2 separate regions of the Homo sapiens genome follow, and region 2 is reported to be linked to region 1. Evidence: microRNA targets listed by miRTarBase, many of them from high-throughput screens and not tested one by one. Region 1 holds a microRNA gene; the other region holds the end of a gene's coding sequence.

Evidence for each region. The annotated mature microRNA hsa-miR-3977 reads GUGCUUCAUCGUAAUUAACCUUA and lies in region 1 at 3,408-3,430, opposite strand. An mRNA with a match to its seed (bases 2 to 7 or 8) in the 3' UTR can be bound and repressed. Matches are read on the target gene's strand: a 7mer-m8 pairs with bases 2 to 8, a 7mer-A1 pairs with bases 2 to 7 and ends in A, and an 8mer does both.
Region 2: the mRNA of ZNF664 is a reported target of hsa-miR-3977. Seed matches in the 3' UTR shown: 7mer-A1 at 3,709-3,715.

Annotation. Positions count from the first base shown.
Region 1 is chr5:82,838,411-82,843,586 of GRCh38, reverse strand. MIR3977 (microRNA 3977) reads right to left here and starts at 3,432; the gene lies at 3,363-3,432.
Region 2 is chr12:124,012,428-124,017,427 of GRCh38, reverse strand. It overlaps ZNF664 (zinc finger protein 664), which reads right to left. Exons shown (of 5, transcript NM_152437.3): 5 at 2,001-5,000. The coding sequence ends at 4,498. The region is part of intron 2 of ZNF664-RFLNA (ZNF664-RFLNA readthrough); the gene reads right to left. Among named protein-coding and RNA genes, the nearest start is that of ZNF664-RFLNA, 42 kb to the right of the region's middle.

The sequences.
Region 1 (5,176 bases):
AACTTAAGCAAAGTCTCAGGATACAAAATCAATGTGCAAAAATCACAAACATTCCTATACACCAATAACAGACAAACAGAGAGCCAAATCATGAGTGAACTCACATTCACAATTGCTACAAAGAGAATACAATACCTAGGAATCCAACTTACAAGGGATGTGAAGGACCTCTTCAAGGAGAACTACAAACTACTGCTCTACAAAATAAAGGAGGACACAAAGACATGGAAGAACATTCCACGCTTATGGATAGGAAGAATCAATATCATGAAAATGGCCATACTGCCCAAGGTAATTTATAGATTCGATGCCATCCCCATCAAACTACCAATGACTTTCTTTACAGAATTGGAAAAAACTACTTTAAAGTTCATATGGAACCAAAAAAGAGCCCGCATTGCCAAGAGGCTGGAGGCATCATGCTACCTGACTTCAAACTATACTACAAGGCTACAGTAACCAAGACAGCATGGTACTGGTACCAAAACAGAGGTATAGACCATTGGAATAGAACAGAGGCCTCAGAAATAACACCACACATCTACAACCATCTGATCTTTGAAAAACCTGACAAAAATGAGCAATGGGGAAACGATTCCCTATTTAATAAATGGCGCTGGGAAAACTGGCTAGCCATATGTAGAAAGCTGAAACTGGATCCCTTCCTTACACCTTATAAAAAAATTAATTTAAGATGGATTAAAGACTTAAATGTTAGACCTAAAACCATAAAAACCCTAGAAGAAAACCCAGGCAATACCATTCAGGACATAGGAATGGGCAAGGACTTCATGACTAAAACACAAAAAGCAATGGCAACAAAAGTCAAAATAGACAAATGGGATCTAATTGAACTAAGGAGCTTCTGCACAGCAGAAGAAACTACCATCAGAGTGAACAGGCAACCTACAGAATGGGAGAAAATTTTTGCAATCTACCCATCTGACAAAGTGCTAATATCCAGAATCTACAAATAACTCAAACAAATTCATAAGAAAAACATCAAACAACCCCATCAAAAAGTGGGCAAAGGATATGAACAGTCACTTCTCAAAAGAAGACATGTATGCAGCCAATAGACACAAGAAAAAGTCCTCATCATCACTGGTCATCAGAGAAATGCATATTAAAACCACAATGAGATACCATTTCACAGCAGTTAGAATGGCGGTAAGTAAAAAGTCAGGAAACAACAGATGCTGGAGAGGATGTGGAGAAAAAGGAACGCTTTTACACTGCTGGTGGGAGTGTAAATTAGTTCAACCATTGTGGAAGACAGTGTGGTGATTCCTCAAGGATCTAGAATGAGAAATACCATTTGACCAAGCAATCCCATTACTACTGGGTATATACCCAAAGGATTCTAAATCATGCTACTATAAAGACACATGCACAGGTATGTTTATTGTGGCACTATTCACAATAGCAAACACTTGGAACCAACCCAAATGTCCATCAATGATAGACTAGATTAAGAAAATGTGGCACATATACACCATGGAATACTATGCAGCCATAAAAAAGGATGAGTTAATGTCCTTTGCAGGTCATGGATGCAGCTGGAAACCATCATTCTGAGCAAACTGTCACAAGGACAGAAAACCAAACACTGCATGTTCTTACTTATAGGTGGGAATTGAACAATGAGAACACTTGGACAAGTGTGGGGAGCATCACACACTGGGGCCTGTAATAAGGTGGGGGGCTGGGGGAGGGATAGTATTAGGAGAAATACCTAATGTAAATGATGAGTTAATGGGTGCAGCAAACCAACATGGCACACGTATACCTATGTATCAAACCTGCACATTGTGCATATGTACCCTAGAACTTAAAGTACAATAAAAAATAAATAAATAAAATTAAATTAAAAAATTTTTAAAAAGACATAATAGTGCTTCTATTCTGAGATGCGGTGTGTTACTATTCCCCCTATTATTTCAAATGATAGCAATATTAAAACAATTTTGTATTATACTTCCCTGAAGTTAGCACAATCAGGCTACTCTTTTTTGCCTTCAAAGCTAAGACCTTGACCCCAAACCACCACCATCTCTCACTCAGGTGGTGGCAACAGCCTCCTAACTGTTCTCTTAGCCTCTAGCTTTGTGCCTCTCTTCCCCAACAAGAGGAAATGCAATAGCCAGAACAGCCTTACAAGGTCCCTTTTGTTCAACACCCTACAATGAGCCTCAGTTCATTCTCAGTAAAAGCCAAATGTCTTCCTTCTCTTTTTAATTATCTAAGTTCATTTTATTTTCCAGGATATTGTTTATCTTGAAATTCTATGGGTGCAAGAAAAAAATGTGACTGCTGCTATTATTGCGTGGAGTATTCATATACAGAGTATGGCATCTATCTTGTTGGTTGATTGTGTTTTTCAAATCTTCTATGTCCTTACCCCAAACTCCCAATCCTCCCATTATGCTTATCACCTTCTAATGCAATATATGCTTACTTAATATGCTTAGTGTTTATTGTCTATCTTCCCTTGTTAGAATGTAAGCTCCACAAGGTAGGCATTATTGATTGTTTTGTTTCCTGATGTATCTCATTTTTCTGGAACTGTGCCTGGCACATAGGAGTGCACAGTAAATATTCATTGAATGTTTGAAGAATGCTCCATCCCAACCAAAGGTAGAATAAACCAGTTACTTATTTATTTTGAGACAGAGTCTTGCTCTGTATACAGGGTGGAGTGCAGTGGTGTGATCACAGCTCGCTGCAGCCTCAACCTCCTGGCTCAAGTGATCCTCTTTCCTCAGCCTCTTGAGTAGCTGGCACTACAGGCTAATTTTTTAAAAAAAATTTTGTAGCTATGGGGTCTCAACATGTTGCCCAGGCTAGTCTCAAACTTCTGAGCTCAAGGGATCCTCCTCTCTCAGCCCTCCAAATGGTTGAGATTATAGACATGAGCCACTGCGCTCAGCCCAGCTATGTTTATTTCTATGCCCTTTTCTTCCCTTTATTATTCTGTCTCACACACAAATATGTCTTTTATTCTGATGTCCCACTGATATGATATCAATCTATTTTAGTCAACATTTTTTATTCTTATGGGTTATATACTTTTTTAGTCTTAATATCATTTAAGGGTGGATCCAAGATTTGGGGGCCCTCTTCAAGTAAAAGAATGTGAAATTAAAAACACAAAAACTGCTTGGAAAGAGGCTCTTCACTCTCATTCATGCCAGCTATCATGTTGAGATGCAAGACACCACTCCCCTTTCTTTCCATTGTGGAAGGAATTTCAGATAGTAGAAAACAGGGGCTTCCACTGATAATTTCCTAGCATAAGCTATGATGTTGATGATAAACAAGATTAAACTAAAAGGCAAAGAAGAAGCAAAAAAAGTAGTTTGATTCTGCCAACACATAACAAATTAAAGTGATTTACCCGAACCACTTAAGGTTAATTACGATGAAGCACAATGTAGACTGTGAATGTCATTAGTCTGATAGATTCACTTTGGCTGCCACAGAAGCTAGCATTTGATTCTATGCTGAGCTAAGGAGTTTCTTCAGCTTCTGGCACACAACCCAAGGCTTGCCCCACTCCTTGTTTTTTTTTTTTTGATTTTTTTTTAATTGTTGCTAAAATCAGTGGAACACTGGAAGAGAGGGAAAGGAAGAGAGAGAATCAAAAGCATGGAGGCATATAGCAATCTGAGGAAAGGAAGAGGTTGAAGACATTAACGTAGATATCTATAGCCCCAGTTGAGTTTCTGTTCATCTCCCTTCAATACCCATTCTCTATCCAAATAGTGATGTGGCGCTTTGTTTAATTATTGTTTAATAGAAGTCTTCTCTCCTAGATTGGAAGCTTCCTAAGAGCAAAGGCCTCATCCACTTCCCTCCTGCTCTCCCTGCAACATGTCCCCCTCCATGTGTCTGGCACATTAAAGGGTTTCAATCAATAATTGATGTGTGAATTCCTTTTACGAATGAGTAAACAAATTGAAGAAAATTTGGCTCTTAGAATCCCCCACTTGGTAGAGCATCTCCTTAGTCCTGTTTTCTTTATTTCATTTATTTCTACACCAAGGATTTCTTCTGCTCCTTATGCCCAAGGCTGGAAGACTTAAACCCCTGAATGGGAAAGTGCCTTATAGCAACTGCCTTCATCAAAACGAATTAGACCATAAAGACATCTAGTCTGCACTCTCTCCTACCTATCACTTTCATTTTATTTGTAATATGTTAATAATACATGCAGAGCAGGATAAATGAAAAATATTACAATATGTTCTGTTGACCTAATGTGAGCATACATTTGGCCAAGTAACTGTGAAATATTTGATATTTTCACAGGAAAGCCAATGACTTTCCGTCTCTGAAGTTGGTGCTTTGGTTTATTTGACACATTTTCCATAGTCATGTTACCAGTAATTTTAGAGGTCCCAGGGGAAGAAACATTTCTCTTCCCTGAGTTCAGTAATTGTCATCTGAAGGTCTGAGAGCTGTACCACTTGCTTCTTGATTGTTTGGTTAAAGAAAAAGTTGTATGAAATGTCCTTTCTATTTTCAGAATATATATTTAACATAGAAAACCTGCTGGTAATTGTGCCAGCACTTAAACGCTATTGTTTCTTGGAAAGGGCCTATTCTGTTGCATGTGCCTTTTAAATGTAACATCTTTAAAACTTGAGTTCAAAGGACTGCCTCTCCTTTCATTAAACTGTAAGGACTTTGGAATGCTGTAAATTCATGTTCCCAGTAATTCTGGTCCTGGACAAGTTTCCTCTTCAACACCCCCTGTCCTTTGTTGTCATCTGTCTTCTCAGCGTCCTTCTGATGTCCAGCTTTGTGTTTCCTGCTATGGACATTTCCTGAGATCACTTGAGCTTATGTTCCATCTCCGAGAGAAAGCTGATGAGAATTAGTCATCCATGAATGTGATTATGGGTGATAATAAGCCCTTCTCAGTTGAGGTATTGCAGCTTAGCAGGAGACTTTTGAAATATTATCACTTTGCACAGTATGATTTTACCCAATATTCACAACAACCCTGTGAAGGAGAAGATGTGGCTAGAAATATTTCCATTTGTAGGTGACAACACTGCATTCCTGAAGGGCTAAATGATTTGCTGATGGTGATGTTACAGGACCCCAGCACTTACCCAAAGGTAGCCATTGGGTCAGGGTTTCTGCTCTATAGTCCCTTCTGTGTCACCAG
Region 2 (5,000 bases), not on the chromosome of region 1:
TGATTATAAAGTTATTCTACTTCATGTACATTGAGAGTGGAAATAAAGATATCCCAGGCCTCCCTGCCCCTTAGGGGTTTGGGTAAACTTGACTCAAAACTCCATTAATTCCATGGCCTGTAGCAGCTTTTAGCTACCCTGAAGATTTCTGCATATTCTGCATATTCCTTGGAGCTTGTTCTCAGGGGCACCCTCTTCTGGCTCCTATATTTATGTGTGGTACTTACGTGTTGCCCCATTTCACCCTGGATACAGCACTCAGCCCTTCCACCAGTTTCCATAAGAAATCCACCATGCCAAACACCCCTAACTTTAGGGAAAGACTTTGTGGTCACGAAGTTTTCCTACACAAGAGCTCAGAACTTCAGACCATCCTACTCCACTGGTTCCCTGGTCCTCTCTCCCACTCCAAGTCTACCCTTTGTTTTCTTACCTCCAACTACCCCAGGAGATTCAAGTTCTCTCTCTTACCATGTGGAGCAATTCAGCCCTCTCCAGGTCCTACCCCAATTTTAGATGTCCAAACCCACCACAGAGCTCAGCAAAACAAAAAGGAATCCAAATAACATGACCTTTCTTCCTTAATAGGCAACTGGGAATAGGAATTCGTTATAGCACTAAATGCTAGGCACTTTACGTTTATTTACTTCTCCCAACATTTCCATGAATTAGATATTTTCAAAACCATTTTAAAGATGAGAAACTTGAGGTTTAGAAAAATTAAGAAAATGAATATGGTTAGAGGAAGTGCTCTATCATCTTCATTTTTCCTCTCTTCCTCTCTAATCCATAGATCTTAACTCAGCTTTGCTATTTATATATGGCTCTTGCCCTGTAGTAGTATCAACCTTTCTCATCTTTTCCTAGATTTTACCACTGAGTATATTTTCCATCTGCTTCTGATATTTGCTTTCCATTCACCTAGTTTTTCAAATTTCTGAGAATATCAGTACATTACAAAGACTGAGAAATAATTCAAAAATTTTAAGAACAGAGCCAAGAGCTAGAAGGTCCCTTGGAAGGAATCATGTCCATGCTCACACAACACAAAGTAATCCCTCTTCAATTTCTGAGATGGCCTGACGAGCTGTGCCCACATTCTCACGCAGTAGACTATCTCAATGTTGGACTCTGATGCAAAGAGTTCTTCCTATCTGCAAGAGGCAATCTGCCGTTTATTCATGCTTCCAAGTTAGAAACCATGCAGTCATTCTGGACTTATCTTGGCTCACACTCTAAATCCTAGCAGATTCACCAAGAGTGAATCCCATCACAGATGACCTACCCTTGCCCCCACCCCCCACCCCCATCAGAAGGGCTAGTTTGGGTTGCTCCCATCCCAATGGTGGAATTGCAATGCAGACTTGTCTCTCAAAGCTGGTAGACGCCACAGCCAGTCAGACTGTTGACTGCGGCACAGAACGTGGGCCCCCTCTGCTTCAGCTGACAGCACTTCACGCCTTCCCAGGCATGGGCTGCAGTCAGCAGGGGCCAGGGCAGGGCTTGGAGGAACTGCCAAGGGGCACCAGGAAGATCACAGAAAGCACCAAAATGGATCACCCAAGGAAAAGGAATTAGCTGCCAACATTTTAAGATTAAACTGTGTGTGAAAATCGAGGTTGGTGTTTTCTTAGAAGAGCTGTGGGCCTGTATTCGCCGTGAACACAGAGCCACAGCCGAGCTGAGGCAGTCCTCTCAGTGGACTGTGCTCTCTCCAGATGGATTATTCCTGACTTGAGTCATTTATTACCTGTGTGGCTGTGACCTCAGACCAAGGTGTCCTCACACCTTAGTGTGCCCGAGAAAGGCCCATTCGAGGCTTGTTGTCCAGATGTGAGTATCAACAGCACCCCCTCCCTTCACTCTCAAGTGCTCAGTTTGGACAATAAATTACATGGTCACCCTGGGCTTAATGTGCAAGCCAATTCTCCACCACACACCCATACCCATACTCCCACACACGACCACTGAATTCACACAACTACATGTCAAGCACAGAACCCTGTTATAAAGCGATTTTATTAAATTGATTTGGACATACTGTAGGTCAAATAATATTTTCTGAAGATAACAATTATGGACTTTAAAGCTCGACATAAAATTAGTAGCTTCAAAAGGGTTAGTCATATTCCCCAGCAACAGCATGATAAAATAATTCAACTATGTAGAAATATAGAACTCTAGGACTAGCTGGAAACTCGGAAATCATTTAGCCTAATGTTCTCATTTTGAGAGAAAACTAGACTCAAAGATTAAGCGATTTGCCCAAGCTCACATACCTAATAGTAATAAAGCTAGAAATCAAACCAATTTTTCCTAAAACTAAAATTCTATCAATGATATTTCAACTGGCTATCAACTAAAAGTCTAGGCTTTTCTCTAATGCTCCACGCTATTGTGACATGAAAGAGTGATAAGACACTACAGTAAATCGTACTTGTGGAATTCAGGCCTGGAAGGGGCTTTGGCAAATAACTAAGCCAGCCCTCTCTTTGTAAAAAGGAGGAAAAGTATCTGAAGTGACTTACCAAAGGCTTGTTAGCAGAGATGTCTGGATTAAAATCCAGATATTGACAAATTCACCCCCAAATCCCATCTCTAGTTTCATGGCCCACCCACTAAATCATGTGCTCCTTTTAAATCTCCTTTATGCGCTGAGGTTTTAGTTATACAAAAACCCCTTCCAGTCAAACAGAAAAAATTAATTCAAATATGGAAAGAAAAATCAAACTTTCAGTATTTTCGTGACTATCTTGAGTAGTTCATTTTCCAACCTCTTAGACAGCTGACAGACACCACTAACCTGATCACCTATTTCAGAGCTTCAAAGATCCTTAATTTCCCCAAAGACTTCCTGAGCAAAAGGACTACATGTGGGAAATCAATGAAAACAGGAATGAGAAGAGAAAGTTAAAAATTGGTTGCTTTTGTTCCTGTCATTGGGGACTTTTGGTCTTCTAAACATTCCTTGAGTTCCTCCACATGAGTTTTTAATATCAATCTAGCAAAAATTAAAACAAACAAAAAAAGGCCTCTGAAAGTCAGGATACTGACCACCTCGGCATCTCTCCCCTTCCCCACTGCTTGCGAATGCCAGTGCTGGCCTGTTCCTTAAACGCACCAGCTCATCCCCCAGAGCAGCCTGTGTGCTCTGCCAGCGACTGCTACTTCTCCTCCGGCCTCAGCTCAACATCCCACCGCGGAAAGGCCTCCCTGACCACTAGCTAATGTCACCCCACCCCCACCCCACCCCACCACTAAAATCATCACCCTAGTTTATTTTCTTCATAGCACTTAATCACTATCTCAAACTACATTATTTATTTGTTTACTTATCATCTGTCTCCTCCACCAGAAGTAAACTCCACAAGAGTAGGGACCTTGTCTGTCTCATCAGTGGTATTCCCAGCACCTAGCACAGTGCCTGGCATATAGGAGGTGTTCAATACATATTTGTTGAATGAAGAAAAGAATGATGGATTAATAAAGACGTTCATGCCTAACAAAGAACTGATACACAGTAATCAATGAAGGGGTATCAAGAACTCCTATGCATTATTGCCCAAGATTACAGAAATAGAGATTGAAACATTAGTGACTCCTCCTACCATCCACTTCTCATAAGGTCTCCCTAGCTAGGAAGGAGCTCCATCTGTTACCAAAGGAGCCCAGAGGGCAATTCTGGATGAAGAAAAGCTCTCACTTTGCTTGCTTCTTCCTCCCTGCTATTTACATTCAGCTATTTCCAAAAAAATTCAAGTGAAAAATATGTGATGCAGCCACTACAAAATAAGTCTAACAGAGACAGTGATGAGCAGAATCCACACAAATAAAAAAGGTTCAAGGACATATATGTCTGCCAATGACTTTTCTGATAGGCTAAGTGAATGGGAATTATGAGTCACCTAAAATCTAAAATGAAAGTTAATGCCATCTAGGAAGGGATGGATATTTATGGGGATTTTGAGGACATATATTCAGAAATAATAGGATATATGGAAAGATATGTAGGGGCTAAATCAAGTGTTAACCTCAGAAATACCAGAACGTGATCTTAGTGGGAGCTGTCTGTTTTCCAATGCATTGCCAGTATGCTCGAATAAAGAGGAAGGAAGGGCATGAGCTCCTCAAGGGGGAGTATCTGGGATAGCTTTTAAGCAAAGTATAGATAGAAGGTGACTCAGGAGGCCGGGCAATGATTGTGGCTTTTTGTGTAGTCTTTCAACTATGGAGGCATCGTGCTGGAATCCCAGGAAGCGACGTCTGTGACTGGGACCTGAGAGCCATCCTGCGTGGATGCTCAGAGGTCCACATTCAAAGTCAACCTGTGGAACACACTTGGCATGAACCAACAAATCAATCTCACATATGCCTCCTCAGAAACAATGTTCTGCTAGGGATTGCGTAAATATTTCTTGGGTCAATGTAGGTATATACAGGGTTTCCTTCCTAGTGGCACTTATGGGTTTTAAGATTTTAAACTCTTAGCAAAACGTTTTATATAACTGATATTTTGAGATGGTTTCTCTCCTTTGTGTGGACTCTCTGGTGGATGCAGAGGCTCGTACTCTGACTGAAGGCCTTTCCGCACTCATCACATTTGAAAGGTTTCTCTCCTGTGTGGACTCTCTGGTGGATGCACAGGCTCGAACTCTGACTGAAGGCCTTCCCACATCCACAACATCTATAGGGTTTCTCTCCAGTGTGGACTCTCTGGTGGATGCAGAGGCTCGAACTCTGACTGAACGCCTTCCCACACTCATAACATTTATAGGGTTTCTCTCCTGTGTGGACTCTTTGATGCATGCAGAGGCTGGAGGTGTGCCTGAAGGCCTTCCCACACTCTTCACATTTAAAGGGCTTCTCTCCGGTGTGGACTCTCTGATGCATGCAAAGGTTTGAACTATTACTAAAGCCCCTTCCACACTCACTACAGACATACGGTTTCTCACCTGTATGAACTCTCATATGAATTTGAAGATGGGAGCTCCAATTGAAGG